Linked DNA regions of Homo sapiens: all the other regions are linked to region 1. The links come from fine-mapping of genetic effects on gene expression. A gene starts in region 1. Each other region holds a variant in brackets. All regions are shown on one strand. Distances are between the middles of the regions.

Region 1 (10,641 bases):
AACCAGAGCAAAAATGGACAAATAGCATCACATCAAGTTAAAAGGCTTCTGCACAGCAGAGGAAACAATCAACAAAGTTAAGAAACAACCACAGAATGGGTAAAAATGTTTGCAAACTACCCATCTGACAAGGAATTAATAACCAGATGTATAAGTATCTCAAATAGTTCTATAGGAAAAAATATAATAATCTGAATTTAAAATGGGCAGGCCGGGCACGGTGGCTCATGCCTGTAATCCCAGTACCTTGGGAGGCCAAGGTGGGTGGATCACGAGGTCAAGAGATCGAGACCATCCTGGCCAAAATGGTGAAACCCCATCTCTACTAAAAATACAAAAATTAGCTGGGCATGGTGGCATGCGCCTGTAGTCCCAGCTACTCGGGAGGCTGAGGCAGGAGAATCGCTTGAACCCAGGAGGTGGAGGTTGCAGTGAGCCGAGATTGCGCCACTGCACTCCAGCCTGCTGACAGAGCAAGACTCCGTCTAAAAAAAAAAAAAAAAAAAAAAATATATATATATATCTGAATAGACATTTCTCAAAGGAAGACATACAAATGACAAACAGGCATATATAGGTGCTCAACGTAATGAATCATCAGAGAAATGCAAATCAAAACTACAATGAGATATCATCCCTTCTCAGTTAAAATGGCTTATGTCCAAAAGACGGGCAATAACAATTGCAGGTGAAGATGTGGAGAAAAAAGAACCCTCGTACACTGTTGGTGGGAACGTAAATTACTACAACCATTGTAGAGAACAGTTTGGAGGTTCCTCAGAAAACTGAAAATAGAGCTACCCATGTGATCCAGCAATCCTACTCTGGATATATACCCAAAAGAAAGGAAATCAGTATATTGAAGAGACATCTGCACTCCCATGTTTGTTGCCACTCTGTTCACAATAGACAAGAGTTGGAAGAAGCCTGTGTCCATCAACAGATGAATGGATAAAGAAAATGTGGTACTTATACACGATGGAGTACTACTCAGCCATAAAAAATAATGAGATCCAGTCATTTGCAAAAACATGGATGGAACTGGCGATCATTATGTTAAGTGAAGTAAGCCAGACATAGAAGGAGAAACCTTGCATGTTCTTATTTATTTGTGGGGTCTAAAAATCAAAACAATTTAACCTGTGGAGATAGAGAGTAGAAGGATGGTTACCAGAGGCTGGGAAAGGAATTGGGGAGGGTTGGGGAGAGATGGGGGATGGTTAACCAGTACAAAAAATAGAATGAAACGGACCTAGTATTTGATAGCACAACAGGGTGACTATAGTCAATAATAACTTAATTGTATATTTTAAAACAACTAAAAGAGTATAATTGGATTTTTTTGTAACAGAAAGGATAAATTCTTGAGGAGATACCCATTTTCCACGATGTGATTGATATGCATTACATGCCTGTATCAAAACGTCCCATGTACCCCATAAATACATACACCTACTGTATACCCACAAAAAATAAAAATAAAATAAACAATTATTTTAAAAAGAAGAGTAATTGAACCTCTGATTATAAAATTTCAAGTTTTATGCAATTACCAGGCTCTACCATCTTAACAAGCCCTGTTTTGGGGCAAAGTGTATAATAATAAATTAGATCTAGATTATATCATCTTTTGAATTGAGGGTGCTTTTTGTGTGCCATAATTCTCTTCTCTTTTTGTATTGGGAGAAATATTAAATAGGTGGAAACCAACCCAGATCCTGAACTTAAATCATGTAGGACTTTGGTCACTGAAAACATAAACAATTAATAGCTGCTGGCCAGGCGCGGTGGCTCACGTCTGTAATCCCAGCACTTTGGGAGGCTGAGGCGGGCGGATCACAAGGTCAGGAGATCCAGACCATCCTGACTAACACGGTGAAACCCCGTCTCTACTAAAAATTCAAAAAATCAGCCAGGCGAGGTGGCGGGCGCCTGTAGTCCCAGCTACTCGGGAGGCCGAGGCAAGAGAATCGCTTGAACCTGGGAGGCAGAGGTTGCAGTGAGCCGAGATTGCACCACTGCACTCCAGCCTGGGCGACGGGGCGAGACTTCGTCTCAAAAAAAAAAAAAAAAAAAATAGCTGTTATACTATTGAGATGTTCTGATCCCACATCAGGATTGTAAATCCCTATGGTTGATATGAACTCTAAGATATGATCATGCTGTTATCCCTAGGGTAACTTGTTCTATTGATCAAATTGCTTGGGTCAATAAATTATAACACACTTTTATGAATAACTAGTCTAGTCCGGGTTTTAATCATTCAGAGGTTGTACGGTGCTCTGAAGTTACCCCAACTGAAATTTTTAGCCCAGTAGATTAAATATTATTCCTTTAAATAGTTAATGTTTTTTGTGTGTGGCCTAATTAAGCTCCATTGGGTCGTCTTGTTTTATCGCCGCATGAGAATCACTAAAGTTAGAGACTGACCATACCAAGCACTGACGAGGTTGTGGAGGATGAAGCTCTGCTGAGACAATGAAAAATGGTACAACCACTTTGAAAACAGTTTGGCAGTTTCTTACAATGTTAGTCTTACATCTATAACATGTTCCAGCCACTGCAATCCTAAGTATTTACCCTAGAGAAAGAAAGCACATTTCTCTGTAAAGACTCATACACAAGATCCCCTAAATTGAATACAACCCAAATATCCATTAGCAAGTGAATGGACAAAACGAATTGTAGTATATCCTATACTGTAATGCTACTCTGTAATAAAAAAAAAAAAACTATTGAAATAGGCAATAAAATGGACAAATCTAAAAATACATAGAGTGAATGAAAGAAGCCAGATCCCTAAAAAAAAAAAATAAAAAAAAAACCTCTATGATTATTTTTAAATAAATGAAATCTAATCTATAATGACAAAAGTGCTGTATTTGTCTGGAGACAGGACAGTGGGAGGAATGGGTAGGCTGGGTACAACAGAACTGAAAATGTTATGTCCTTGAAAATAATAACAATGATATATAAGCCTATACGGTTCCTTTAGGGGACATGGCAGGGTATCATTAGAATAGGGCAAACTAGATACTGAAGGACCAAGAGGGCAGAGTAGGAGATATCAGCCTTCATCACCCCCTGCCACAAAAAAACAAGTGTAGACAGCTATCCACAAACTAAAGTATTCATGGGAGGGCTCAGGGGCCCATTTAAGAATCTGCAGCAACACAGTAGAAAAAAAAATGGGGAATATCCACACAGAAAATATTGCTGGTGAGATCAGTATACTTGAGGTGCCAGGAGATGTCTAGGAGCAAAGAAGAAAGGCAAAGGCTATTGCTATTAGCCATGTGGCAGGAATCACCATGGTCCCCAGCAGTCTGCTCTGGAGAGGACACTGGCATCTTTCGCCACTGAGATAACCAACAGCCATTCCTGCCCAAGGAACCCCAGAGAGGGAGAAGTGGCTACACACTTCTCATCTCAAGAAGCAGCAGCTATTATACCACTCTGGGACCAGAGGTGCCACCTGTCCCAATGCTGCATGTGTCACTGACCCCCCCAAGCTACAACTACTCTGTAAATACCCATACTCCAGACCCCAGCTCTGTGCCTGACTGTGCCTGCCCATGCCTCAGACACCAGAGCCACTGCCATAGAGACCTAGCAAAACACCTTCACTCTTCAGATAACTCCCTGAGAAAACATACCAATTAGAGGAACTAGGCTGGGATCCGGGCCCCTAAGCCAAGGTCACTTTGCACATGTCTGTACTCCAGACACTAGATTAACATCCATTGAAGGCTAGCCCATACTCCAGACCCTGGATAGGAAGAATAATCTCTAGTGTTCTATAGCATTATACTAAATTATCAAACAATAATTTAATGTATTTTTTCAAATAGCTAGAAGAGAAAATGTTGAATGTTACCAGCACATATAAATGATAAAGATTTGAGATGATGGATATGCTAACTACCCTGATTTTATCACTACACATTGTATACATATATTGAAATATCACAGTGTACCCCCATAAATATGTACAATAATCATGTGTCCATATATAATAAAATATACATTTTTCAAAGTAAGACATACAAGTGGCCAACAGATATGTGAAAAAATTCTCAATATCACTAATTGTCAGGGAAATGCACATTAAAACCATAACAAGATATCACCTCACACTTGTTAGGATGGCCATTATTTAAAAAAACAGAAGATGGTAAGTGTTCACAAGGATGTGGAAAAAAATGGAACCCTTGTACAATACTGGGAATGTAAATTTATACAGATATTACAGAAACAGTATGGTCATTCCTGAAAAAAACTAAAAATAGAATTACCAAATGATCCAGCAGTCCCCCTTCTGAGTATATATCCAAAGGAAATGAAATTAGTACCTCAAACAGATGTATGTACTCCCATGTTCACTGCAGCATTATTCACAATAGCCAGGGTATGGAATCAACCTAAGTATCCACCAACAGATGAATAAAGAAAATGTCATACATGCACACAATGGCGTACTATTCAGCTTTTTGAAAAAAGAAGGAAATCCTGTCATTTGTGACAACATGGATGAACCTGGAGGACATTAAGTGAAATAAGCCAGGCACAGCAAGACAAATACCACGTAATCTCACTTGTATATGGAATCTAAATAAGTTGAACTCATAGAAGCAGAGAGTAGAACAGTAATTACCAGACAGAGGCTGGGGAGGGGTTTGGGGAGATGTTGGTCAATGGATACAAAATTTCAGTTAGAGAGGAGGGATAAATTCAAGGGATCTATTGTACATCATAGTGACCATGGTTAATAAAAATATATTGTACACTTGAAAACTGCTAAAAGGGTAGATTTTAAGTGTTCACCACAAAAAAAAGTACATTAGGTAATGCATAGGTTTATTAGCTTGATTCAGCCATTCTACAATGTATAAAATATATCAAAACATCATATGACTTTTTAATTGACACTTTATAAGTTATAGTTCATAAACAAATTTATTATACAACAGATATGGGAGAATGCATATTATAATCTCAAATTGGTAGGAAGGCCTTCTAACTAACTTTATATTTCAACATTCATTTGATAGTGTTGATGGGAATCACTGGTTATTATTTATGCAGTCAGAAATATATATATAAACTTATCATAAATGCATGTTAAACATAAAGTTTCTCCCTTGTCTATACTGTAAGAAAGTTTGAAACAGAACAAGAAGAGGCCTGACTTCATACAGGCATTCCTGATCCTGCAATAACCACAGGGCTATCGTCTTGCACCTATGTTATCACTGAAGGTTTCAGCAATCCTGTGGGTGAGCATTTTTATTTCCATTTTACAGAGTGGGAAACTGGGCTCAGAGAGGGTCTTTACCTGTCTCATCCTCCCGCGTCCCGCCTTTACAGGGAAAGTAGCCCCGGGACACCCTGGAGCAGGACACCACACTCACTGGGGCCAGAAGAGACCCACCTCTCTCTCCTTCACGAAACAGCCAGAGCGCCGATCCCCAAAGTGGGAACGAGGGGACGTCGATCTGGGGTCCTTTCGTCTCCCTAAACCCCACGGAGATTCAGGCCACACTGCTGGGCACTCACAACCTCCACTGAGTCCAAACGCCTGAAGGCGGTTCTCCCCAGGCCAAATTGGTCTCAATAAAAAGTCGTCACCGTCGCTAATATGACGTCAGGTTACTATGGCAACCGCGTAGCACTGGCTTGTCTTCCACACCTGAAAATGACTATGCACAACCCGCTCCTCCATCCCCAGCCTATCCCTTAAAGCAAAACACCTTCATTCTTCAGATAACTCCCTGAGAAAACATACCAATTAGAGGCTGGGATCCGGGCAATTTTCAAGACTCTCTACTCATTATGGTAGAGGAAAGGAAGTCCATGTTGTCAGGAATTTTGCTTTAAAAGTGACCTAAGGGGGCCGGGCGCGGTGGCTCATGCCTGTAATCCCAGTACTTTGGGAGGGCGAGGCGGGAGGATCACGAGGTCAGAAGATCGACACCATCCTGACTAACACGGTGAAACCCCATCTCTACTAAAAATACAAAAAATTAGCCGGGCGTGGTGGCGAGCGCCTGTAGTCCCAGCTACTCAGGAGACTGAGGCAGTAGAACGGTGTGAACCCGGGAGGCGGAGCTTGCAGTGAGCCGAGATTCTCAAAAAAAAAAAAAAAAAAAAGTGACCTTAGAGGAGTATCATCAGTACACAGAAGCCCAGAGAGGTGTCCTAGGACTCTGGGAGATGAGCTAGCCCTCTGAGGAGGAACATGTACAACTCACACACTATACTAGGCAGTTGGTTTTCTGTGGCAGAAAACAGATTGTTTATAATCAAGTGACTGAATGATCTAGAAACACAAAAACTGTCATTTGAGTAATAATACAGTTATTTCAGGGAGGCCGGACTAGAATAATATAATCATTTAGTAGGCAGGAATCCAGTCAATTAAAACACACAGTAGTTTGCCTTAAGGAAATTTTTTTTTTTTTTTTTTTTTTTGAGACGGAGTCTCGCTCTATCGCCCAGGTTGGAGTGCACGGCGCAATCTCAGCTCACTGCAACCTCTGCCTCCCAGGTTCAAGCGATTCTCCTGCCTCAGCCTCCCGAGTAGCTGGGATTACAGGCGCTTACCACCACACCCAGCTAATTTTTATATTTTTAGTAGAGACAGGGTTTCACCATGTTAGTCAAGCTGGCCTCGATCTCCTGACCTCGTGATCCACCCGCCTCGGCCTCCCAAAGTGCTGGGATTACAGGCGTGAGCCACCGCACCCAGCCCTGCCTTAAGGAAATTCTTATCCTTCATTCCTGGTATGTTTTTCCATGTGGAAAATACATCCATGACAAAAATACATGTAGCCTCTACACACTCACTCCTCTCTACGGCAGGAATGACTTATCCGATTGGAGAATCTGGAAGGAGACACATGATACTCTGCCCAAGCCCTCTCCCTTCAACTTCTTGGTAGTAAGCTGCCCTTCAGGAGGCACTTGTTCAGCTTTGCCTTCAGGGATGGGACTTAAAATAGGCCCACAGGTTTACTCCTCTAACTGTGTCTCACTGACTCTACAATTATTCCTATAGTTCTTGATTCACAATGCTTAATTCTTTAAGGGGCCCCCAAAATACTCTTCTGCTTCTAGTCTGAGCTCTAAACCAACTGAGAAACATAGGAAAAGAATAAGGAGAAACATATATTGACTTTATCTCTTATAAGGTGATATTGGAGAATGTGACTTAGATTTGCTGTCACGTGGGCTTACTATGAGTAAGTTCTAGAATTGACTTATCCACCCAGCAGTGCTGCATTGGGACAGTCATAAAGACCAAGGACTGCAATGTATATCTATCTGCTGTCTCCTAAAGGAGCCCTGTCTATGTGTGCCCAAGGAAAGTTACTTCCTTGCCAAGGGTTATCACTATAGCAGGAGAAAGTGTTTCAGGACACTTTCTTTGAGAAACACTTCTAAAATTGTTCAGAATGAATACTCACTAAGACAACCTCTCAGGTTTCCTCATAGAATGGTTTGTAGCAATGCCCTCTCAGTATCTTAATTCACATGATTGCAGTGGGAATTCTTCTTAAGGAGTTAGGTTTCAAATTTTAAGACTAGCATGAAAAATAGATATCATGTAAATTGCCCTTGGGAATCCCTTCAAGAAGGAATTGATGACATGTTCAGAAATCTGTACCCACATGTAAGCCAACACTCAGATGATACAATTATAACCAAGTTTCACTAAGCCTTCAAGGATAAGAAAATTCCTTTCTTACCCAATGATAACACAACACAGAAAATGAGGAAAAGTTCACCAAAACCATAATGTTTTAGATATCCGTTCCTTCTTAACAAGCACCCTTAATTAATAGCCATTTATTTTCTCTCAGTATTTTGTGTGTTAACTGGGCCCAGCTGGATGTTTTCTGCTCTATATGATGTCTGTCACCTGGGGCTGCAGTCATCTGGAGGTTCCACTCATCTGGGACATCTGAGAGAGCTCACTCACATGAATGATGACTGGTGTTGGCGTCTGCTGGGAGCTCAGTTAAGGCTGTTGACCTGAGCATCTTGGCTCTCCACAGAGCCCTCCACGTGTACAGTTACCAGATTAAAATCAACTCAGTTAACTTTAAATTCCGGATTAATAGGAATATTTTTTAGTTTATGTGGCATGCAATATTAGTTTATTTAAAATTAAAATCCAACTGGATTTTAATTAAATAAATAAAAGTAAATGAAATAAATAACAAAATAAAAATTTTAAATCGTCTTATTATTTGCTAAATCTGGCAATTGCAGGGGATGACCCTGTGAATCTCTAAGTTTAATGACCATCTGAGCTGATTCTTCCAATGGGACAGGTCTGGGGAAAATGAGCAGATTGGATTGGCAATAAGGACAAAAGTTGGTAATACTTGGTGTTGGTGGAATGAAAAGCCAGCAGACGCTCACATATACTGTTGGTGCCAAGTGGATATATCTGTTTTCCAAGGCTCATATTATAACTTAAGACATTAATGATCTTTGATGCCAAAGTCCTATTTTTCCACCAACAAGGGAGTTTCAGCTGAGGGTTTAGAAAAGACTCATCAAGGTGACTACGATGTGCGCCCTCTTAAGGGGCCCTGGCTGAGGTGGCAGCTCAGAGTAACATGAGTTCCCTGCTTGGAGGAGGAAAAGACAGCTACTATTTTGTAAGGCAGATGGTTTAGCTGGGCCCAGCTCCAGTTTCTTCACATTAGTGTCTGGATTTAATCTCATGACAGCCGTGCTGGTGAGGTACCAGTATCCTCTCTTCCTCATGGATGTCAGTGACTATAAAGCACGTGCTCCTAAACACAGAGCTGAATGGCAAGGAGGTTACTCACCAGGCCCACTGCCAGAGCCAGGGATAGAACCTGCCAGCCTGGGCACCTTGAGTTGCTAGTGGTAGACCTTTAGCAAATGTATCTGGACATGTACTGTTAAGGAGGTTAATCTCTGTTCTCCTTGCTTACCCTCCCTGCAGTAAGGTTGGTGCCCCCTCTCCTTACTTCAGGGGAGGTTTGTGAGAGGGCTGACAGCAGAAGCCTTCTGGAGCCAGTTTTTCTTTCATCCTTTATGAAAACTTAATTTGTTGAAAGGACCGGGCTGCTTGTACCTGGTAGGGATGTGGGGGCCTCTCAGGACACAAAGATGGGAGAGGAAGGAAGATTTCTCCCAGACAGGGATGAGGCCTGAGGTCTACAAATCTCTCCAGGAGTTGGGACCTGAGCATTGCTCTGTATCAATGTTTGTGGTGAATTAGTGGATGGTCCTTCGAGTCTGGGCATCCATCCATGATTCAGATTTGATTTTCCTGTTTTGATCCAGGGGTAGATGACTCAGGATCTGGGACATGAAGGCACTGGGCCAACTAAGGAAATGGTCATCTCAGCCCTGAGCAGTGTGGACACGAGTGGTTACAGCAGGAGACTCTTGAGGCCATATCAGGAGGATACATTCCCAGAAGTGGAACTGTTTTGTCAAAGAGCATGACCATTTAATATTTTTAATGCTTCCTATATAGTTGAACTTTAAAATTTCTTTAATAGTTCTTATATTCCATCCAACAATTTGAAAACATCTGTTTTTCCTGATCTGTGCAAAAATAGGTTTCACAGATTTTTAATATTTTTTATTCTGAGATCCTGTTATTGGTACATTAGATTTTCTTTATTTTTCCCTATCGTATTATGTTTTAAATAGTGTATTTCACAGGTGCATTAAAAATGCTTAGCTAATGGTTCCATATTATACCTTAGAATATGTCTTGGAATAATTCTAGAGTTTGAAAAGAAAACCCAATCATCGAATTTGTGTTTATGTTGCATCCTGTTTGAATTGAAATGTTGGGGCCACGAGAAGCCCATACATAGCTTGGAGCGGACAAATTGGTACAACTTCTTTGTGGAGATATTGAGCAGCACCCACAATAGAAGCATGTGAGGCTCTGTCATCTGCTGCCCTCTCAGATGTGCATTGCAGAGTCTCGGTACATAGCAAACCTGTTCACAGGAGCATGGGTAAATATCAAAATAGTCCCAAAGTCACCTGGTTAGAAACATCTCAGAAACACTATTTTCAGAAGAAAACATTTCGATAATAGATATATAAATATGTTACTTATATAGAGATAAAAATATGCAAAGCAATTATGTGTTTAGTTTAGGGATGTATTCATGACTAAACAAGAAATTTTGGATAGTGGTTCCTTCTGAGGGCGCTGAGGCAATCAGGGAACTCACACAGGAGAGTCCACTCTGTAATGTTTTGCTTCATAACCTTGGTTGTGTACGTGTTTGCCTACTATCATATTTACAATACCTTTTGAAAAGTCTGAAATCTATCAAATTTGACATGAACAAAGCTCTAATGTGTTTTATCTCTGATTAATAAGTAACCCACTGTCTATTTAAAAAATGTGGAAAGTGCATTCAAATACCAATATGAATATTGATAATATCTAACCCCACCATGCACTAATAAAAACTGTAATTATGTTTCCACCAATTATCATCTATACACATGTGTACATGTAAACAAAAATACTGTGTATGCATTGAATAGATTTAACTTAACTGGAATGTATTAATTTATTGTAGGTGTGTAACCAGACTTAGTGTCTGAAAGCTACATCCATCTAGT
Region 2 (10,641 bases), 140 kb after region 1:
CTGTTCTTGTACCAGTACCATGCTGTTTTGGTTACTGTAGCCCGTATAGCTTGAAGTCAGGTAGTGTGATGCCTCCAGCTTTATTCATCTTGCTTAGGATTGCCATTGCTATTCGGACTGTTTTTTGGTTCCATATGAATTTTAAAATAGTTTTTTTCTAGTTCTGCAAAACATGCCATTGGTAGTTTCATAGGAATAACGCTGAATCTGTAAATTGCCTTGGGCAGAATAGCCATTTTAATGATATTGATTCTTCCTATCCATGAGCATGGAATGTTTTTCCATTTGTTTGTGTCATCTCTGATTTCTTTGAGCAGTGTTCTCATTGTAGAGATCTTTCACTTCTCTGGTTAGCTGTATTCTTACGTATTTTGTTCTTTTTGTGGCAATTCTAAATGAGACTGCCTTCCTGATTTGGCTCTCAGTTTGGCTGTTGTTGGTGTATAGGAATGCTAGTGATTTTTATACATTGATTTTGTATCCTGAAACTTTGCTGAAGTTGTTTATTAGCTAAAGGAAATTTGGGGCCAAGACTATGGGGTTTTCTAGATATAGAATCATGTCGTCTGCAAAAAGAGATAGTTTGACTTTCTCTCTTCCTATTTTGGATGCCCTTTATGTCTGTCTCTTGCCTCATTGCCCTGGATAGGACTTCTAATACTATGTTGAATTGGAGTGGTGAGAGAGGGCATCCTTGCCAAAGCTCAATCTTTGGACTTCCTCTCTTACTACTCACACTATCTACATCTCTTAGTCATCTCATCCAACCTCTTGGCTTTAAATACCACCTATACCTTCATGTTTCTCAAATTTCTACCTCTAGTCTGGACCTATCTCCAAAGTCCCAAACTTATATCTCCAACTGCTTACTTTCCATCTTGACATGGATGTCTAAAAGGCATCTGAAATGCAATAAGTGATATCTGTATTCACTGAGCTGCTCAGCATCAGAATCAATTCCTCTTTTTCTCTTACTCTATATTTGATTCATCTACAACATCCATTGAATCTACCCACTAAATATATTTCAAAGCTGGACACTTACCACCACTTCCACAGCTGAGATCTTATTCCAAATCAATATCATCTGTTACCTGGACCACTGCAATTGTTTTATAGGTACTAGTTATCCTTCTTGCCTCAATTCTTGTTTCTCTAGAGTCCATTCTCTACACAGTAGCCAGGATTACTATTTAAAAATATAAGTCATGGCCAGGCATGGTGGCTCACACCTGTAATCCTAGCACTTTGGGAAGCTGAGGCAGGTGGATCACTTGAGGCCAGGAGTTTGAGACCAACCTGGGAGACACGGTGAGACCCCGTCTGTATTAAAAATACAAACATTAGCTGTGTGTGGTGGTGCATGCCTGTAGTCCCAGTTACTTGGGAGGCTGAGGCACAAGAATTGCCTGAACCTGGGAGGCAGAGGTTGCATGCACTTAGCCGTGACCATGCCACTGTGCTCCAGCCTGGGTGACAGAGCAAGACTGTCTATCTCTCTCTCTCTCCATATATATATATGGAGACAGCATATATATATATATATATATATATACACACACACATATATACACACACACATATATATATACACATATATATACACACACATATATATATACACATATATATATACACATATATATATACACACATATATATATATATGTGTGTGTATATATATATATAATATCTCACAGCTCTCCAGCTCCCCTTGCCAAAACCTTCTAGTGGCTTTCTGTAAGACTTAGAATCCAAACTTCTTTCCATGGCCTGTAATATCTTACATGATCTGGCCCCTGGCTACCATTTTAAAATCATCTCTCACCATTCTCCCCTTGCTTCCTCCATTTCAGCCACACTAGCCTTCTTGCTGTTTTTTGAGCAAGCCAAACACATTCCTACCTAAGGACCACTGTATTTGTTGTTCCCAAAGCCTAGAATATTTATCTGTTAGATAACCTCATGACTTGCTCCATCACTTCATTCAGGTATTTGCTCAGAATGAACTTCTCTGACTATCCTATCTAAAATAGTATCCCTCCTTCCAACACCCTCATACCCTGTTTTATTTTTCTCGGTATCATTCACAACCACTTAATATTACATATTTATATATTTAATTTCTTATTATCTGTTTCCCTCATCCCTAAATGTAAGCTCCATGAGGATGATGTTTTGTTTTATTCTATGCTGTATTCCTAGAACCTAGAAACAGTGTTTGGGACAAAACAGATTGTTCAATTTGTTGAAAATATAAAGACCCCTTGAACATATGGTTTTCTGTTGATTATATAAATCATATCAGTTTACACTATATTTAAAATCTGGGAAGAGACATTATGCTTCTATAAGCATCTATCACTGACCAATCAGACAAAGAAGCACCCCCATAAAATATTTAGACAAATTATTTTGTTAGAGACAATATTTTTGGCTGGCAAGTGTCTCACCCAGTAGGTTTTTAAAAGTTTTAATTCAAATTGCTTTTTTAGAGCTACCTGCCCACTCTTCCCTAAATTACTGACTGTAATTCAATTAAAATAGGAATGGGGGGAGAAAGAGAGAGGTGGAGATTTTTGTTTGTAGTAAGTTCAGTTCATTCTAGGTTTACTTTGAATGTACATTTCAAATTTAATTTTGGTTTTGTTTGTTTTTATTTTGGTAATTCACAAAATTGTATACACTTATCATATACAATACATTGTTTTGAAATATGTATGCATGATGGAATAAATTTGGCTAATTAACATAGCCATCACCTCACATACCATTTTTTGGTGAGAAGATTCGAAATGTACTCTCTTAACAATTTTGAAATATGCAATTCATAATTATTAACTATAATTGCAATACTGTGCAATAAATGTCAAAAACTTACTCCTCCTGTCAATGTGAAACTTTGTACCCTTTGACCAACACATCCCCATTCCTGTTCTCGCTCCCATCCTCTGGTAACCACCATTCTACTTTCTACTGCTATGAGTTTGACTTTTTCAGATTCTATATATAAGCGAGATCATGGAGTATTTGTCTTTCTGTGCCTGATATATATATATATATATATCAACAACTGAAATCAGTATGTTATATATATATATATATATCAACAACTGAAATCAGTATTATATATATATATATACATATATATATATACATATATATATATTTGTATATATTACATACTGATTTCAGTTGTTTTGTACATATACCAAGAAGTGGAATTGCTGGATCACATGATAGTTCTATACTTAGTTTTTTTTAGGAATCTCCATACAGTTTTCCATAATGGCTGTACTAGTTTATATTTCTAGAGTGTACAAGAGTGCTTTTTTCTCCACATCCTCATCGACACTTGTTATCTATCATCTTTTCAATAATAGCCATTCTAACAGGTTTGAGTGATACTGCACTGTGGTTTTAACTTGCATTTCCCCGATGATTAGTGATGTAGAACATTTTTTGACATATCTGTTGGCCAGTTGTATGTCTTCTTTTGAGAAATGTCTATTGAGGTCCTTTGCCATTTTAAAAATAAGGTTATTGTTTTCTTGCTATTGAGTTGAGCTCCTTATGTATTTTTGATATTAACCCCTTAACAAATATATGGTTTTCAAATATTCTCTCCTGTTCTGTAGATTGTCTCTTCACTCTGTTGTTTCCTTAGCTGTGCGGAAGCTTTTTAGTTTGAAGTAATCCCACTTGTTTATTTTTGCTTTTGTTCCCTGTGCTTTTGGGTTCGTAACCAAAAAATAAATGCCCAGACCTATGTCATGGAGTTTTCCTCTTATTTTTTGTTCTAGTAGTTTTACAGTTTCAGGTCTAATGTTTAAGTCCTCAATTCATTTTGAGTTGATTTTTATATATGTTGTAAGATAAGGGTCTAATTTCATTCTTCTACATGTGGATATCCAGTTTTTCCAACACTATTTATTAAAGAGATTGTTCTTCCCTCATTGTGTATTCTTGGAACCTTTGTCAAAAATCAATGAAGTATAAATGTGTGAGTTTATTTCTGGGTACTCTCTATATTTAATTTTCTATTTTGCCATCTAAAGCAGGTAGTAAGCTAATGTACACACTGCTACACTGGAATTGAACATAATACTGGAAAAGTGCTCTAGCTTTGATAGGATTTATCAAGTTTGAAAGTCTAAACTTCTATGAAACTCTATACTTTTACCATAAACACAAGGCTTCCTTTTTTTCCAATCTGATGTAAAATGCCAAACAAATACATAAATGTTTGAGGATGTTTTAGTTTGTTAGTGCTGCCACAACAAAATACCACGGGCTGGGTGACTTAAACAACATAAATTTTTTTTCCCATAATTTTAGAGACTGGAAATCCAAGATCAAGATTTTGGCAGGTTTAATTTGTCCTGAGGCCTCCCTTCCCTGGTTTACAAATGACCACCATCTTGCTGTGTCGTCACATGGTGTTTCCTCTGTGCATGTGCACCTCCAGTATTTCTGTGTGTCCAAATTTCCAGTTCTTATAAGGACACCAATCAGATTGAATTAGGACCCACCCTAATTAACTTAATTGCCCCTTCAAAGGCCCTGTCTCCAAACATAGTCACATTTGGAAGTACTTGAGATTAGTGCTTAAACATGAGAATTTTGGGGTGGACAGGATTCAGCCCATAACAGAAGATTAACATGGTAAAGAGAGTATTCAAATGAACTCCTATCATATTTATAGGAACTCTACCACAAGACAGGTTACCAAGTTGTTTTTTAATTCACTTGTGAGGTAAAATTTACAGAACTGTGAAATTTCACAACTCCCTTTTGGTAAGGAAATCTGGAGTGTTTGACACTCATCAATTTTCCCCTTATTATGATATACCCATGTGAATTCATAGATGGTAAAATGCCAATAACTGGAAGTAAGAATGTTAAAGATATCTACATAATGCCCAAAACTCAATGAATAGCCTATTTTACCACATTTATTTACCTATCTATAACTTGCTTGATTCTGTGACCACTGCCTTCACTGTAAGTTGTATAATAGACTAAGTAATGTATCCCTCTCCACAATATTCCATTTTCTAATCCCTGGAAACTGTCAATATGTTACCTTACATGGCAAAAAGGGACTCTGCTCATATAATTAAGTTAAGGATCTTGAGATGGGAAGGCTATCCTTGATTATGCAGTTAGTCCCAACATAAGCAGAGTCATTAAAAGAGGGAGGCAAGAAGGTCAAAGACAGAAAGAGGTGGGACAATAAAATTAAAGGCTGAAATGATGTGAGAAAGAGA[T/C]TATAAGCCAAGGAACACAGGCAGAAGCTGAAAAAAAGGCAAGAAAACGGATTCTCCTCTCACAGCCTCCAGAAGGAGCCAGCCCTGCTAACACCTTCACTTAAACCCAGCAAGACTAAATTTGAACTTCTGGCATCTAGAATAGTAACATAATAAATATATGTTGTTTTAAGCAATCAAATTTATGGTAATTTGTTACAACAACAGGAAAATAGGAAAAGCAGTCTGATTTTTAGGAGTAGGAAGGTATACTAGAACTGTTCTTTAGGGAATTACTTGGGAAATTGCTGGGTATATTGATACTGAGCATATCACAAAGTCAGTCCGTACTCACTCAGCCCTAAACTTGCTGCTGTGTGCCCCAAATCCTAAGGCTATAAGACAATAGCTGGTAAGACCTTGTTGAAGAACAAAGACATTACTTCAAATTTAGAGAATAGTACCAAGGCCAATTTTCAAGGCTTAGATACCTTAAGCTTGTTTATTGCTCAGAAAGGAAAGGTGAACTCATAAGTATTATTTTGTGATAAAACTGGCATACAGAAACAAAATGGATAGAAAAAAAACTCAACAAGCTTTCTACAAATATACTGACTGCTTAAATATGTTCCCTAATGTCTACTGAGTCTTTTGAAAAGTAGCAATAGCCCCCTCTTTTCCTGTGTCCTTCCTAGACCCTTTATTCTAGGAAAATGCTATTTGTAATTTTTAAGTAGGTATGGGAAAATAAATATATTATTATCAATGTTTTGTAAGAGATAACTGCTAGTATTCTTTGTACAGCAAACTATAATAGCATTTCCCAAACATCTAATTAACAGAATTTCTCCCCACAAGGATTAATAATGATGAATTATTTCCAACTAACACATATGGTGGTTGCAAACCGCTGATACACAGAGTCTATGAAAGTAGTAAAATTTTAAAAGTCTCTACCTTGTGTTTATCACTGGAATTTCAGCTTCTGCAAAATATGGATAGCCTATTTTACCACATTTATTTACCCATATATAACTTGCTTGATTCTATGACCACTGCCTTTACTGTAAGTAGTACAGTAGACTAAATAATGTATCAGCCCCCACAACATGTCAATTTTCTAATCCCTGGAATCTGCGAATATGTTACCTTACATGGCAAAAATGGACTTTGCCTATGAAATTACATCATTCACAATGTAACCTGCTAAATTTAAAAAAGCCTCACAATCAAACTGAACAGAGGCTATATAGTTCTTGCTTAAAGCTTCAAGGACAAGTGTCATCACTATCAAAATTACAAAGCCCCTTTTTGCAGAAATGGAAAAGCAGATATTAAAATTCATATAGAATTGCAAGGGGCTTCAAATAGCCAAAACAATCTTGAAAAAAAAAAAGTTGGAGAACTCACAATTCCCAATTTTAAAACATACTACAAAGCTACAATAATCAAAACAGGGAGGTACAGACATAAGGACAGATATGTAGATTAATGGAATGGAATTGAATGGCCAGAAATAAACACATCTATAGACAACTGAAGTTCAACAATGGTGCCAAGACCATAAAATGTGAAAGAATATCTTCAAAAAATATGGCTGGAACAACTAGAAAGCTACATGTCAAAGAATGAACTTGGACTCCTACCTCATGCCATATATAAAAATTAACTCCGAATATATGAAAGGCATAAATATAAGAGCTAAAATTATATTGGGCAGTGCTTCTGTTATACCTTTCATTGATAAGGAATACAAAGAAAGAAAGCTGTTCTCAAACTTGTTTTTTCTAAGGATGACATTATGGCTCCTACATGGCACTATGGTTAAGGAACTTATAAGTAAGATTACTTCTAACAAGAAATGTTCAGTCACATAAATGAGAACTCAAAAAATCAATACAACAGAGACTTCTGATTTCCAGTCTGAAATGTAAAGTGATTGGAAGTCATTACTCTCATTGTTAGTATAAGAAAAAAGCTGAACAAACTGAAAATTAACAGCTCTTCTTAGATCCATCAGAGAATTGAGGTCACAGGACAAGCCACTGCCCCCAAAATTGAGAAAAAATGTGGTTACTGAAAACCACAGCTTACTGACATCAGAATCTCAGGAGCAGACGCCCACTGCTAGACCCAGTAGTGGAAGGCTCAATGTGGACTAGCTTTACAGTTAAAATATCTGGAGGTTCCTCTCAGAGAGGCTCCCAAATCTTTGTGAGTTTTGCCTCCAGGAGCCCTGACAGGTTCTCAATATAAAGACTGGTAAAAAAAATAATAAAAATAAAAATAAAAATAAATAAAATCCCCTCATGTTTCTAGTAGGAAGACAGGGGTTGGCGGTGGGGGCAGGGGTGTGGAGGGGGGAGTAACCATTTGAAATATGCCCAGAGTATTCTGTTCTCCTTAAAAATCCCTGCTTCCCTAAAGGGAAACTATTTTACCAGAACCCAACTGAATTGGGTTTTATCAATGCCTATCCGACTGTAAAGAAGGGAAATACCCAGATCTAGTACCCATTAGCCTGATACAGGGTAAGGAAAATAACCAATTCAGCCCCATCTAGGATTCCCGTATCACCTAGTGGGAAGAAAAAACTGAGAAAAACTTGTGAAGGTCATAGCACAGGGGTACTAGGTCACTAAAAGACTAAGACCTAATCATAAGACAATAGAATATATACCCCTTGTACCCACTGCTTACCACTACATCAATCAGGCTAATGTCTAATAACAGGGAATTACAGCTGGAACAACTGTTAAGTATCAGACCTTATATAAAAAGTAATCTCCGGGGAACCCAAAGACAACAGAATAGGAAAAAGCAGGGATAGCAGAAGAAATTTTAGAGTTTGACATCTATAGCTACAACAAATATTGAATATAGCCTGATTCTTAGACAGATAAACATAAAGCCTCACACTTAAGGCCTATTTTACTGAGTTCTGTTGCCTAATATATCATGTCTAGCTTTGAACAAAAAATTGGAAGCCATGTTAAATTGCAAAATACAGTCTCAAGAGTCAAAGTAAGCATCAGAACCTGACTCAGATATGGCAGATATTTTTGGAACTATCAGACTAGTATGATAAGGGCTCTAGTGGGAAAAAAATGGACAACATTTAAGAAAAAATGAGTAATATAAACAGAGAGGTTTGAAAACCCTATGAAGAATGAGGGGGAAGGACAAGATGGCTGACTAGAAGTAGCTAGAGTATGCCACACTCACAAAGAGAAGAAACAGTAGCAATTAAACACTACATCTTCAACTGAAACATGCAGGTGAACATATTGGAATTCATCAAGGAAACAACTCGACCCACGAAGAACAGAGAGGAGTAAGACAGGATCTCTGTCCATCTGGGAGGTTCCCTCTCCATGGGAAATGGTGAGTGAGTGAGAAACTTCAGGAATCCACACTTAGGATCTTTGGAACTCTAGGATCAGGAGATCCCCCTGTGAGCCCACTCCACCAGGGCCTTCGGACTGATACACAGAGCTATGTGGAGACTGGACAGAGCCACACTCACATATATGCAGAGTCCCAAGGAGCCCTGGATCCCCAGGCATCCTGGCATTAGCAGCTGCAGCTCTGGTAAAAGGGGAGGTAGGCCGGGTGCGGTGGCTCACGCCTGTAATCCCAGCACTTTGGGAGGCCAAGGTGGGCGGATCACGAGGTCAGGAGATCAAGACCATCCTGGCTAACACGGTGAAACCCTGTCTCTACTAAAAATACAAAAAATTAGATGGGCATGGTGGTGGGCACCTGTAGTCCCAGCTACTCAGGAGGCTGAGGCAGGAGAATGGCGTGAACTCAGGAGGTGGAGCTTGCAGTGAGCCGAGATTGTGCCACTGCACACTCCAGCCTGGGGGACAGAGCTAGACTCTGTCTCAAAAAAAAAGGTTGCGGGGAGGTAAGCCTCACTTATACAACCCCAAGAAAGGTGCTGAATCCAGGGCGCTGAACAATGAAGGTCTGCAAGCCTCACAGGCTGAGACACACTGGTCTGGACTTTAGTTACCCCCTACTAGGGCTCTTAGGCCTGTAACAACTCCTCACCTCCCAGACAGGTGGGCTGCCATCTTTGTAATCTTGCAGTCTTCAGGTTCTGGAGAGTCCCAGGCAACTACCGTGTGGCACAGACTCCCAGCACAGTGTGGCCACCCTAAAAAAAGCAGCCAGACTGTTTTCTATGTGGGTCTCCAATCCCGTTTCTTCCCACTGGGCAGGACCTCCCAACCTGGGACTCCAGCCACCCCCTCGCTGGGGTTCTCATGCTGGTGGCAGCTCTGCAGATCTCTGGGACAGAGCTCAAAGAAGGAGCAAGCCAACATCTTTGCTCTCTTGCAGTCCTTGCCTTTGCTACCTTCAAGCTCTCACGAGTCCATGGTAACTAGGCACTGGTGCAGACCCTCAGCACAGTGCAGCTACTCCATGGAAAAGTGGCCACATTGTTCCCCATGCAGGTATCTGTCCCCACTTCTCACTGGGCAAGGCCTCCCAACCTGGGACTCCAGCAGAACTACCCTGCACCCACCTGAGCACTTCAATTAGAGGTGGCTCAGCATTTCTCCAAGTAGGAAATCCCAGAGTCAATTCAAAACCCTTCCACCACTGCAGCTGCAGTGGTACTGCCCTAACTACCCTTAGGCCGGGGAAGGAACAAAGGGCCTAGTTGTTGTATTGGCACTTCCAGCACACTGCAGCCACCATATGGAAGGGAGTCCAGTTCCTCTTCCTTAGGCGTCTTCATCCCCCTCTCTTCACCAGGCAGGGCCCCAGGCTCACAACTCCAGAACAGCTGCCCTACTCACTGCTGAGCATACCCCACTGGTAGTGGCTCTGAGTTTTCTTTGGAAGAGGTTCCTGGAGGCAACCAACAGCCCCTCTGCCACTGCCACAGTAGCAGTTTCTGCCCCTGCTACCCTCAGTTGGGGAAAGAAACAAAGAGCTCGAGGGCTTCACGCAAGCTTACAGCACAACAAAGTCGCCACACGGAGAGGAGCCGGTCTCTCCTCCCTGTGAGCCCATGATACCCTGCTCCCCAACAAGTAGAGCCCCTACCTCAGGACAGCAGTGCAGCTGATCTAGCCCCTGGCTGAACACTCCCAGTAGCAGCAGCTCTGTGTTTCTTGGAGGTAGAACTCTTAGGGGCAACTGAAAGCCCCTCTGCCACTGCCTCTGCAGTGGAACTGCTCTTACTGTCCTCAAACTGGGGAAGGAGTAAAGACCCTGAGTGCTTTATCCCCACCTCCAGCAAACTGCAGTTGCTTTAAGGAGAGACCAGTCTGTCTCCCACAGGTCCCACCCACCCCTCTTGCTCATCACCAGGTAGGGCCCCTCCAGGTTGATCCCACGTAAGTACAGCCTCCCCATCCCAGGCCAATCACATTGA
Region 3 (10,641 bases), 730 kb before region 1:
TAAGTGTATTTATAACTGATAAGTGTGTTTCCATTTCCTTGATGTATTTGGTCCCTCATCCTGCCCCCATACACAGACACACACAGAGCCTTTTTCTTTTGCATCTTTTTCTTTTGCAAATTAAAAAAAAATTCTTTTTCGGTTTTTTTCTACATTTAAATTTTGTCAGATGATAGGTGATAAAAGGATATTTAGATGGTTTCATTAGCATTCTTTAATGTATTAGTGAGCTAGAATGCATTTTCTTGTGATTACTGGCCATTTGCGTTTCTTCACCTGTGAACCATATACATATTTTTTCAGTTTTGTTATTTTGTTATAGGAGCTGTACATGTGTTAAACCTAAAACCCTTCACTGATGGATGCATGCATTATTTCAACACATCTTTGTTGGGTGAATATTATTTATGAGACACTCTAGCAAAATCCATGTCCTAGATATCTCTTCTGAGATCTTGGCTCTTATATTTATGGGAGATGTCCCCCTGCAGCAAGAAAAGTATTAGTGCCCATGTAAACATGCGTGGCTTGTCAAGGATCACATGCACAGACAGTTCACACTTACTCCTAAACCCGGCATGGCCACAGAGTAGAAAGGGTGTGTAGTGCGTTATATGAGGAGAGCACTGGCTCAGGATTGTGATTTCTGTGATCTCTATATTAATGGCAATGTTTTAAAAAATTACATAACATTTCTGAGTTTGCCTTTTCTCATTTGTAAAATGGAAACAATTATAGCTACCAAAGACAACTGTTCTGAAAGCAAAAGAACAAAATATTTTAAGCGTCATACACAGCATAGGGTACGTACAGTACTCAACACATCTTAGTCCCTTTCCTATCCCATACCCGTCCTTCCTTTAAAGGAGATTCCTTTGACATAATCCAAAAGGCATGGTTCCATAACGATCACATGAAAGTTTTAAGGGAAATGTATAGGTTTCCATGATGAATTAACTGCTGTGTCACTACTCTGTGCTGGGTAAGAAAAAGGAAAACAATCGCTGAATCAGTTTCCTAGGGTTTGTAAAAGAAATCCATCAAAGCCACCACCTCATTTCGCTTTATTTCACAGACTTCCCCATCTCATTTTTTATGTTCTATGCTAATTTCTCAAGAAGAACAGGCCCGGCACCACCTCTGCGCACAACCCCGCGGGCCTGGCTCAGGCGGGAGTGCGGGGCCAGCACCATGAGCGCCCCGGGCAGCCCCGACCAGGCCTATGACTTCCTGCTCAAGTTCCTGCTGGTGGGCGACAGGGACGTAGGCAAGAGTGAGATCCTGGAGAGCCTGCAGGATGGTGCAGCTGAGTCCCCGTACAGCCATCTCGGGGGGATCGACTACAAGACGACCACCATCCTGCTGGACGGCCAGCGGGTGAAGCTGAAGCTCTGGGATACGTCGGGGCAGGGAAGATTTTGTACCATATTCCGCTCCTACTCTCGTGGTGCACAAGGAGTGATCCTGGTCTACGACATTGCAAACCGCTGGTCTTTCGAGGGTATGGATCGATGGATTAAGAAGATTGAGGAACATGCCCCTGGTGTCCCTAAAATCCTGGTGGGGAATCGCCTACATCTGGCATTCAAGAGGCAGGTGCCCAGGGAGCAGGCCCAGGCCTACGCCGAGCGCCTGGGTGTGACCTTCTTTGAGGTCAGCCCTCTGTGCAATTTCAACATCATAGAGTCTTTCACGGAGCTGGCCAGGATAGTGCTGCTGCGGCACAGGATGAATTGGCTCGGGAGGCCGAGCAAGGTACTGAGCTTGCAAGACCTCTGCTGCCGCACCATCGTGTCCTGCACACCTGTGCATCTGGTGGACAAGCTCCCGCTCCCCAGTACCTTAAGAAGCCACCTCAAGTCCTTCTCCATGGCTAAGGGCCTGAATGCCAGGATGATGCGAGGCCTCTCCTACTCCCTCACCACCAGCTCCACTCACAAGAGCAGCCTCTGCAAAGTGGAGATCGTCTGCCCACCCCAGAGCCCACCCAAAAACTGCACCAGAAACAGCTGCAAAATTTCTTAAGGAAGGCACCAAAAGGAAACAAGCTGGAATCGCTCCAGGAAAAACTCTGGTTACACCTGGAAGATGGAAGTCGCATTGTAGATTCAAGAAATTAGTTTTCAGTTTCTCACGGGAACCATGCTGCTTGGGAATGTGTGTGATGCCTTCTGTCAATAAAAACACATTACACAGTTTGACTTTGAATTTCTATTTGGATGTGCATGAAGCTCTTGTTTTAAACGTGTGTTTATAAAGGGGAAATTAGTACTTTGCTCAACTCTTGATAACGTGAAATTTTGAATGTTACTTATATCATAATCACGCTGCAACTTTTTCCTTAAAATAACCGCCTTTGTTAGAATGGTGATATGGCAATGATGAGTATAAATTCAAGGAAATTTGAGAAGCAATGATAGTGAGATAATTCAGTCATCGATAGTACAAGAGGGGCCTTTTTGTAAACCTCCTTTTTAATGTCAAAGCACCAATTTATAAAACACTGCAGATGCATATAGAGATTGTATATAACAGATCTGTCCAGCTTGTGCATGAAATGGATTTGATAAAGTTTTTGCTATGTTATTTACTACATTTGGGGATTAATACGTGATTTATATGTATGTTTTTCTGTAAATCTACTTTTTTTGTACGAGATGTTCTACAAGATATGAAGCTAAGGGAGGAAAACACCAAAGATATCTCTAGTTATGTTGAACATAGCCAATATGGTTTCAATGGATCAATAAGAAAAAACCATTTCAGTAAGGAATGAAATACGTACTTATTTGAGAAAATGTTTCTTAACAGTAAAAAAGTATATATTTTTCTCTTTGGTAAAACGAAAAGAGAGGAAAAATATGTATAGTGTAACCCCGCAAGATGAGGCTTTGCAGAAAAACAATGCAATAGAACATGGCGGGGCAGGCCCATTATAAGGCCTTAGGTGAGTCATTTCCCCTGTGCTGGCCAGTTTTGGTTAACACCTCTCAGATCAATATAGAGGTTAATGAGATCACATCTGGGAAAGCACTTCTGAGACCTTAGATGGGAAAGAAGGAGAAGTGGTTTCCACGTAGTTACTTTCCAATTTACACTGTTGATTATTATAATAATTGATATTGGATGAACTGAGTAAATATAAGTCCTTGTACTCTTTTGTAATTGAATGACCATTTATTTGTGCATTGTCATAGGGTGATTGTAACAAAGTCCCGCAGAAGGGCAGTATCTCTGGCCTCACGGAGCTGTGGGGACTCACCCTTCCTGAACGCTGGTACTTTTCTATCTCATGAATTTCCCACAACATTCCTGGGAGGTAGAGGATATAATCTCTACACCATCCTGTAGCTTAAGAAACAGGGATGTTTGCAGGTTAAGCAACCTGGCTGGGGAGCATCCTGCCACTAAGTGGAAAAGCAGAGACTAGCATCCTATATGCCCCCAGGCAGACTGTGATGCTGAGCTGCACATCACAACATAACCAAGCAAATCTTGCTTTCCTGCTGACCTGGGTCACTACTGAAATCTGTATCTTCAGCTCTGAAGCCAGGCTGCCAGTTCTGTCTCTCTTATGAAAGACAGAGAACCTTGTCAGACCTAAATTTCCTACTCTGTAGACAAGGGAGTGTGTCTGGGCCATTGCTTTAGAAACGAGTCCGCAGACAGTTCCTGTATCAGGAAGAATATGCACTCTCAGAGGGACAGGGGCCATGCTGAGGGTGAATACTTGAAGGAGCAGGCCCCAAACACATGCAGATCGGGGATGCATAGAGTCTTTAATAGAAATTACCAAATCAACCTTGAAAGAGGTTGTACTAAATGACATCCCCACCACCAATATGAAACAGGGTAGGCTTCCCCGCATGCCCACCTTACTGGAATCCTGAATGGTTTCTTTTTATACTTTGATGATATGACAGGTGGAAATTCTTTCATTGTCATTATATTTAATTTGATGTTCAGATAACTTAAAAAATTCCCTAGTATACAAAATGCTCTGATAATCATCATTGCATTATATTTTTATTGCAAACTGGTCCATTTTCATATGTAGCCTAAAAACAATGAGCAACAGGCACATTAGCCTGCAAGTTCTCCTAGAGCTACTGGTGGCATTATGGTTCCAGGGTGTGTTTGTGGCCTCTGGGGAATACTGATGGCAGTGTGTTTGTCTAGAAGATTAAGAACATCTCTCTGTGATATTAGTTGAATTCAATATTAGAGAAGAGCTGGAGTCTTTTTAAGTGACACAAGAGCTGGACCACAACATGCTTCTGAGCAGGCTGTAATCCTGTCCCTGTGATGGACAGCAAGCCTTTCTGTGACCTCACCTGCTCAGGTCAGGGTGGATCCCTCCAGAACGTAAGGTATGGCAATTGGCCTAAATCTGCTTCTGAACACTGAAGCTGAGTGCTCCCATCTTCCTGCCGTCAGTTGCAGAGACTGGAGAAGCTGCATCTTCTCAGACACCAAAACCACGGGTTCAGTCACCTGTGTGAGGAGCTCAGTGCTGGAAGATAAAATACCAGCACCTGTTTGACACATCGTGCATCCATCCATCCATCTGTCCATCCATCCATCCATCCATCCATCCATCTATCCATCCCCATAGTTAACAGGCATTAAAGTCAAATGACACCATCCCTCTGGTTAAGTTTTAGACTTCCCCAGAATAGAAACAAGGAAGTAAGGGGGTTGTGGTAAACTCAGTTTCTAGACCTAAGAAGAGATGGCTCCTTCTCCTTAATATTTCCACCCTGAGAGAGCCTCTTATCATTGATAATTTTAAAACATAATTTAAAACCCTAGACCTCTCTCTACAACCCTAGTTACTGTTCTCTTTACATATATTCTCCCATTGCAACCAAAGTTCTATGAAGAATTCTCAATACTCAACTCACATCCCTTTGCACCTCCCTCCACCTCAGTCCTCATTCCTCATCTAATGGTGCTTTGTTCCCGCACCCCTCTGTTGAAATGAACCCCATCAAAACCAACAGCCACCCCTTTGTCCCATTTATAGATCAAGAGTGTTAAAATGAACATCTATATGGAGACAAAGCTTCCCCCGCAATGACAAAATTCAGTTGCTTTTGTATAGACAAAGATTATATTGCAATGCTATATTTACCTAAAAGCTAGCATTGTAAAATAGCTTCCATAAGAGTCAGTCAGATAACGTGAAGGCTGTGCTACAGGAACTGTGCTATCAGTTGAAGTACAACATTTCCCCAACATATCCCATACTATTGCTTCAATAAAAGGAATTTTGCAAATAGATTTACTGCATGTTAGCAATATTTTTATGATCACTTCAATAAATTCTGTTTATTGTTTTATTTCTTTCTGAAGGAATTACTAAGTATGCAATGTAATCGCCTGAAATTAAAATGTTGTTTCAAAATTTGTCGTGGTTAAATATATTGCCTAAAAGCATTGTCTGATTGTTTAATATGCCATAATTTGGTAATATAATGGTGGTGAAATATAATAGTAGATAGAGGGAACTCTTGCAGTCTCCTGATTAGGTCAGAATTCTTCTACTGCACCACACAAATCATAATTCTGGAATTCCTTTTGGAATGTTTCCATTTGGTAAACTATCACAACTATATGATAAGTGTACATGATTCCATACTGATATAAATTAAGTGTTTCCATTGACAAAGAAATGGGTCAGAGAAGACAAATTGTCTCAATCAAATAATTCTAAACAATATATGTGGCTAACCCTCAGTTCATGAGGTGAAGTTTAATTCTGTCCTCTACCTCCTAAGAACAGGGCTGACTTAGTGACTTACTTCTACAGAAAAGAGTATAGGAATGTAAAATAGTTACCACACACTGGAGAAATTTGGCAAACAGTACCTTAACCAAGTGATGAAGGTTAACATCACCATTGATATCATATGGGTAGCATGTAAACCCATATATGGTGTGATAAAAAGGGCAATTCATCTCTG[C/T]GGTATTCCTTCTGAAAACCCATAACCTCAGTCTAATAATGAGAAAAACAAGTTATGCCTGTACTTCTCATGAAATCAAGCTTATGAAAATAGTCTGGCCATACCTCAAATGGTTAACAGGGAGTTACCATATGACACAGCAATTCCACCCCTAGGTACATAGCCAAAAGAAATATGCCTACATAAAAACTTGTACCTGAATGTATACAGGATCATCATTCAAAATAGCCAAAGAGTGGAAACAACCCAAATGCTCATCAATTGATACATGGATAAAATGTGGTATATTCAGCAATAAATATGGATGAGGAACTGATATATGCTGCAACACAGATTTTGAAAACATTATGTAAAGTGAAAGAAGCCAGATGCAAAAGACCAAATATTGTTTGATTTCACTTATATAAAATGTCAAAAACAAGCAAATCCACAGAGAAACAAAGCATATCTGTGATTGCCTAGGGCTGGGGGTGGGCACAGGGATTAACTGCATTCAAGCAGGATGGGTAATCTTAGGGTGATGAAAATGTCTAAAACTCAACGATGAAGTCCCAGCTACAGCAATCAGACAAGAGAAAGAAATAAAGGGCATCCAAACTGGAAAAGAAGAAGTCAAATTATCCTTGTTTGCAGATGACATGATCTTATATTTGGAAAAACCTAGACTCCATCAAAAAACGATTAGAACTCATAAACAAATTCAGTATAGTTGCAAGATACAAAATCAACATACAAAAATCAGTAGTGTTTCTATATGCCAGCCAAGAGTGAACAATCTAAAAAATAAATTTAAAAGTAATCCCATTTACAATAGCCATAAATAAAATTAAATACACAGGAATTAACCAAAGAAGTGAAAGGCCTCTATAATGAAAGCTATAAAACACTGATGACAGAAATTGAAGATGACGCCAAAAAATGGAAAAGTATTTCATGTTCATTGATTGGAAGAATCAATATTGTTAAAATGTCCATTCTACTCAAAGCAATCTACAGATTTAATACAATCCCTATCAAAATACCAATGACATTCTCCACAGAAACAGAACAATCCTAAAATTCATATAGAATCACAAAAGACCCAGAATTCCCAAAGCTATCTTGAGCAAAAAGAACAAAACTGGAGGAATCACAATACCTCACTTCAAATTATACTACAGAGCTATATCACCAAAACAGCATGGTACTGGCATAAAAACAGACACATAGACCAGTGGAACAGAATAAAGAACCCAGAAACAAATCCACACACCTACAGTGAACCCATTTTCAACAAAGAACCTATACTGAGGAAAAGACAGTCTCTTCAATAAGTGGTGCTGGGAAATCTGGAAATCCATACGCAGAAGAATGAAAATAGACCCTCTATTTCTTGCCATATACAAAAATTAAATCAATATCAGTTAAAGGCTTAAATCTAAGACTTCAAACTATGAAACTACAAGACTTTGGGGAAACTCTCCAGGACATTGGTCTGGGCAAAGATTTCTAGAGTAATACCCCAACACAGGCAACCAAAGCAAAAACGGACAAATGGAATCACATCAAGTTAAAAAGCTTTTGCACAGCAAAGGAAACAATCAACAAAGTGAAGAGACAACCCACAGAATGGGAGAAAATATTTGCAGACTACCCATTTGACAAGGGATTAATAACCAGAATATATAATGAGCTCAAACAACTCTATAGCAAAAATAACTAAACTGATTAAAAGGTGGGCAAAAGATTTGAATAGACATTTCTCTAAAGAAGACATACAAATGGCAGACAGGCATATGAAAAGGTGCTCAACTTCATTGATCATCAGAGAAATGCCAATCCAAACTACAACAAGATATCATCTCACCCCAGTTAAAATGGCTTATATCCAAAAGACAGGCAATAACAAATGCTGGCAAGGATGTGGAGAAAAGGGAAACCTTGTACACTGTTGGTAGGAATGTAAGTTAGTAAAACCACTATGTAGAACATTTTGAAGGTTCCTCAAAAAAACTAAAAATTGAACTTCCATATGACCCGCAATCCCACTGCTGGGTATATACCCAAAAGAAAGGAAATCAGTATATTAAAGAGACATCTGCACTCCCATGTTTGTTGCAGCACTGTTCACTATAGCTAACATTTGGAAGCAACTTAAGTGTCCATCAAGAGATGAATGGATAAAGAAAATGTGGTACACATACACAACGGAGTACTAGTCAGCCATCAAGAAGAATGTGATTCAGTCATTTGCAAAAACATGGATGGAACTGGAAGTCATTATGTTAAGTAAAATAAGCCAGGCACAGAAAGACAAACATTGCATGTTCTCACTTATTTGTGGGAGATAAAAATGAACGCAATTGAACTCATGGAGGTAGAGACTAGAAGGATGGTTACTAGAGGCTGGGAAGGATGGTGGCAGGCTGGAGGGGAGGTGCATATGGTTAATGAGTATAAAAAAATTAGAAAGAATGAATAAGACCTAGTACTTGGTAGCACAACAGGGGGACAATAGTCAATAATAATTTAAGTGTGCATTTCAAAATAACTAAAAGAGTATAATTGAATTGTTTGTAACACAAAGGATAAATGCTTGAGGGGATGGATACCTAATTTTTAATGATGTGATTATTACACATTCCCTACCTGTACCAAAATCTCATGTATCCCCAAAAATATATATGCCTATTATGTACCCACAAAAATTAAAAATAAAAGATTTTAAAACCCTCAATTATGAAGATCATTGCACAACTCTATACATTTACTAAAAATCACAAAATTCTATCTTCAAAAGCATGCATTTTATTGTCCATAAATTATACTACAAGAAAGCCGTTTAAAAATATGATATTGCCCTGGTCTTCTGTTGTACCACAGTAGTGACCAAACTTTTTCATACAAAGGCTGTGATGTACATCTTTTATATAAATGTGAATGCATGTAAAACGGTAGCTGTATCCCAGCCCTGCTGACTCTTTGTCATATGTTCCTCCAAGGATTTTCCCCTCCTAACACTATCCCACATGTTACTTCGGGTTTTACTCGGGTGTAAAGTTTGATTTTCATCTGATCACTTCCACATGTTCCAACTGTGGCAATGGCTTGAGAGTAGGTCTACAACAAAGTATAGGGCATTTACTGTCTAACAGGATGTCATTACTATTACTTTCTTCACTCCCCTGTGTGTTTTCTTGCATGACTTCACTTAGGGAGTCTAAATAGCACTACCTTGATGAGTGTCAGTGTGGCAATATTTATCAAAAACCTACATATGGACACACTGTTTGCACAAACAATTTCCCTTGAACAAGTTTATCTTCAGAATGTAAGGAAGGATGTGGATAAGGATATGGTAAAAAGAACTGCTATTCTGATAATTCCCTTCCTTTACTTCTGGGCCTTGTGAAGCCTGAAAGAACCAGTCCTTCAAGATAAATCCTGGGTGTTTAACTGGGCCTAAATTCAAATTAGAGCCAAGTGGCCATTTGCTGAGTAGAGGTCACACATGACTTCGAGTTCCCAGAAAACCTGAAAGTCTGCTTAACTTTGGGACTTTCATAGCTGCCTGTTCCTTTTTATGGTGCTTGAACCAACCAATAAGCTTTCACCTATGTCAACCAATCAGAACTAAGCAAGTTGGAATCCTTCATTTGCATAAGTTGACCTGAGTGGGAACCTGGGTGAGAATTTTCTTCATAAAAGACAAACCTTCCCTTTGTCCTCTGGAACACACCTTCATTTTATACTGAAGGCTACATCTCCCCGATTTGCAAACTATTCACTGGAATAAAGTCTCTTTCCTCTAAATTCCTTTTCAGAGAACTTTTGTTCTCAGCCTGAATTTAGGAAGGGAGACCAAATGAGATGCAAAGCCATGAAGGAAAAGAAGGAAGCAGAGGAAAATGTGGTTGTCATCACACACACAATCACGCCAGCACATACACAATCACACACACACACACACACACATTTATACATGGACCAGGCTCTTTTTATCACAATACTAGTATTCTTCTATGACAGTTTGGTGAGTTCCAAGAGGACACATTTGGCTCACCAGTCCAAACAGCCACAGGAACTGTGCCCGGAACTGTGCCCTTCAGCGGAGCACATACTTTGAAAAGATGCCATCGACACAGTGTTGACATTAGGGAGTATCAGAACACTCTGAATAACATGGAGTTCTGAAAATTATGTTACATCCACAGCATGAAATTGTAGGTAAGCAATAAAATGAGTTACAATGAAGACAATGATGAGAGAGAATTTTTTGCCTATCAGATTAGCTACCATGCCCATTATTTCAATGTGTGTAGAAACAGGCACTTTCATACTGTGATGTTAGTGTTACTGAGCAATGGGCTTGGTCACCAATGCACATAGAAGCCAATACTATGGCACTAGCTTTTGAGGAAAGAAAAAGCTTTATTGCAAGGTCGACCAGCAAGGAGACAGGACCAGCAACACTCAAATCTGTTTCCTCGAGCTGGGGTCTGAAGGCAGAGAGTAACTATGGGGGACATAGGGAAATGCAACCAGGCATGATCTGATTGGATCATGCAAAGAAGTGGTGCCAAGTCCTTGGCTTTTAAGTTTGTACTGGGAAAAAAACAGGGAACCACTCACTTCTCATTTTGGTCCTCATTTCTCAATCTGAATACTTAGATTCCACATGTGGTTGACATTTTCT

Which allele goes with the higher level. Positions count from the first base shown, and alleles are read on the strand shown. Sizes are in standard deviations (SD) of each study's normalised expression. Not every link is listed here.
With allele T in place of C in region 3, the expression in lung of the gene that starts at base 5,620 in region 1 is higher (moderate effect, 0.64 SD a copy in GTEx).

The links. PIP is the estimated chance that this variant, and not a neighbour inherited with it, causes the effect.
Region 2: its variant is the best candidate, but not a certain one, in a credible set for the expression of LINC00630 in whole blood (TOPMed, PIP 0.54).
Region 3: its variant is the best candidate, but not a certain one, in a credible set for the expression of LINC00630 in lung (GTEx, PIP 0.61).

The regions. Positions count from the first base shown.
Region 1 is chrX:102,764,132-102,774,772 of GRCh38, reverse strand. LINC00630 (long intergenic non-protein coding RNA 630) reads right to left here and starts at 5,620. Exons shown (of 12, transcript NR_146589.1): 1 at 5,432-5,620. All of the region lies in intron 8 of ARMCX5-GPRASP2 (ARMCX5-GPRASP2 readthrough), which reads right to left.
Region 2 is chrX:102,624,540-102,635,180 of GRCh38, reverse strand. The region is part of intron 4 of ARMCX5-GPRASP2 (ARMCX5-GPRASP2 readthrough); the gene reads right to left. Among named protein-coding and RNA genes, the nearest start is that of GPRASP1, 22 kb to the left of the region's middle. The variant T/C (reference allele first, on the strand shown) is at 5,271.
Region 3 is chrX:103,491,307-103,501,947 of GRCh38, reverse strand. RAB40A (RAB40A, member RAS oncogene family) reads left to right here. Exons shown (of 3, transcript NM_080879.3): 3 at 1,122-2,818. The coding sequence starts at 1,192. The coding sequence ends at 2,025. The region is part of intron 5 of LL0XNC01-250H12.3 (a long non-coding RNA gene); the gene reads right to left. Among named protein-coding and RNA genes, the nearest start is that of RAB40A, 23 kb to the left of the region's middle. The variant C/T (reference allele first, on the strand shown) is at 5,967.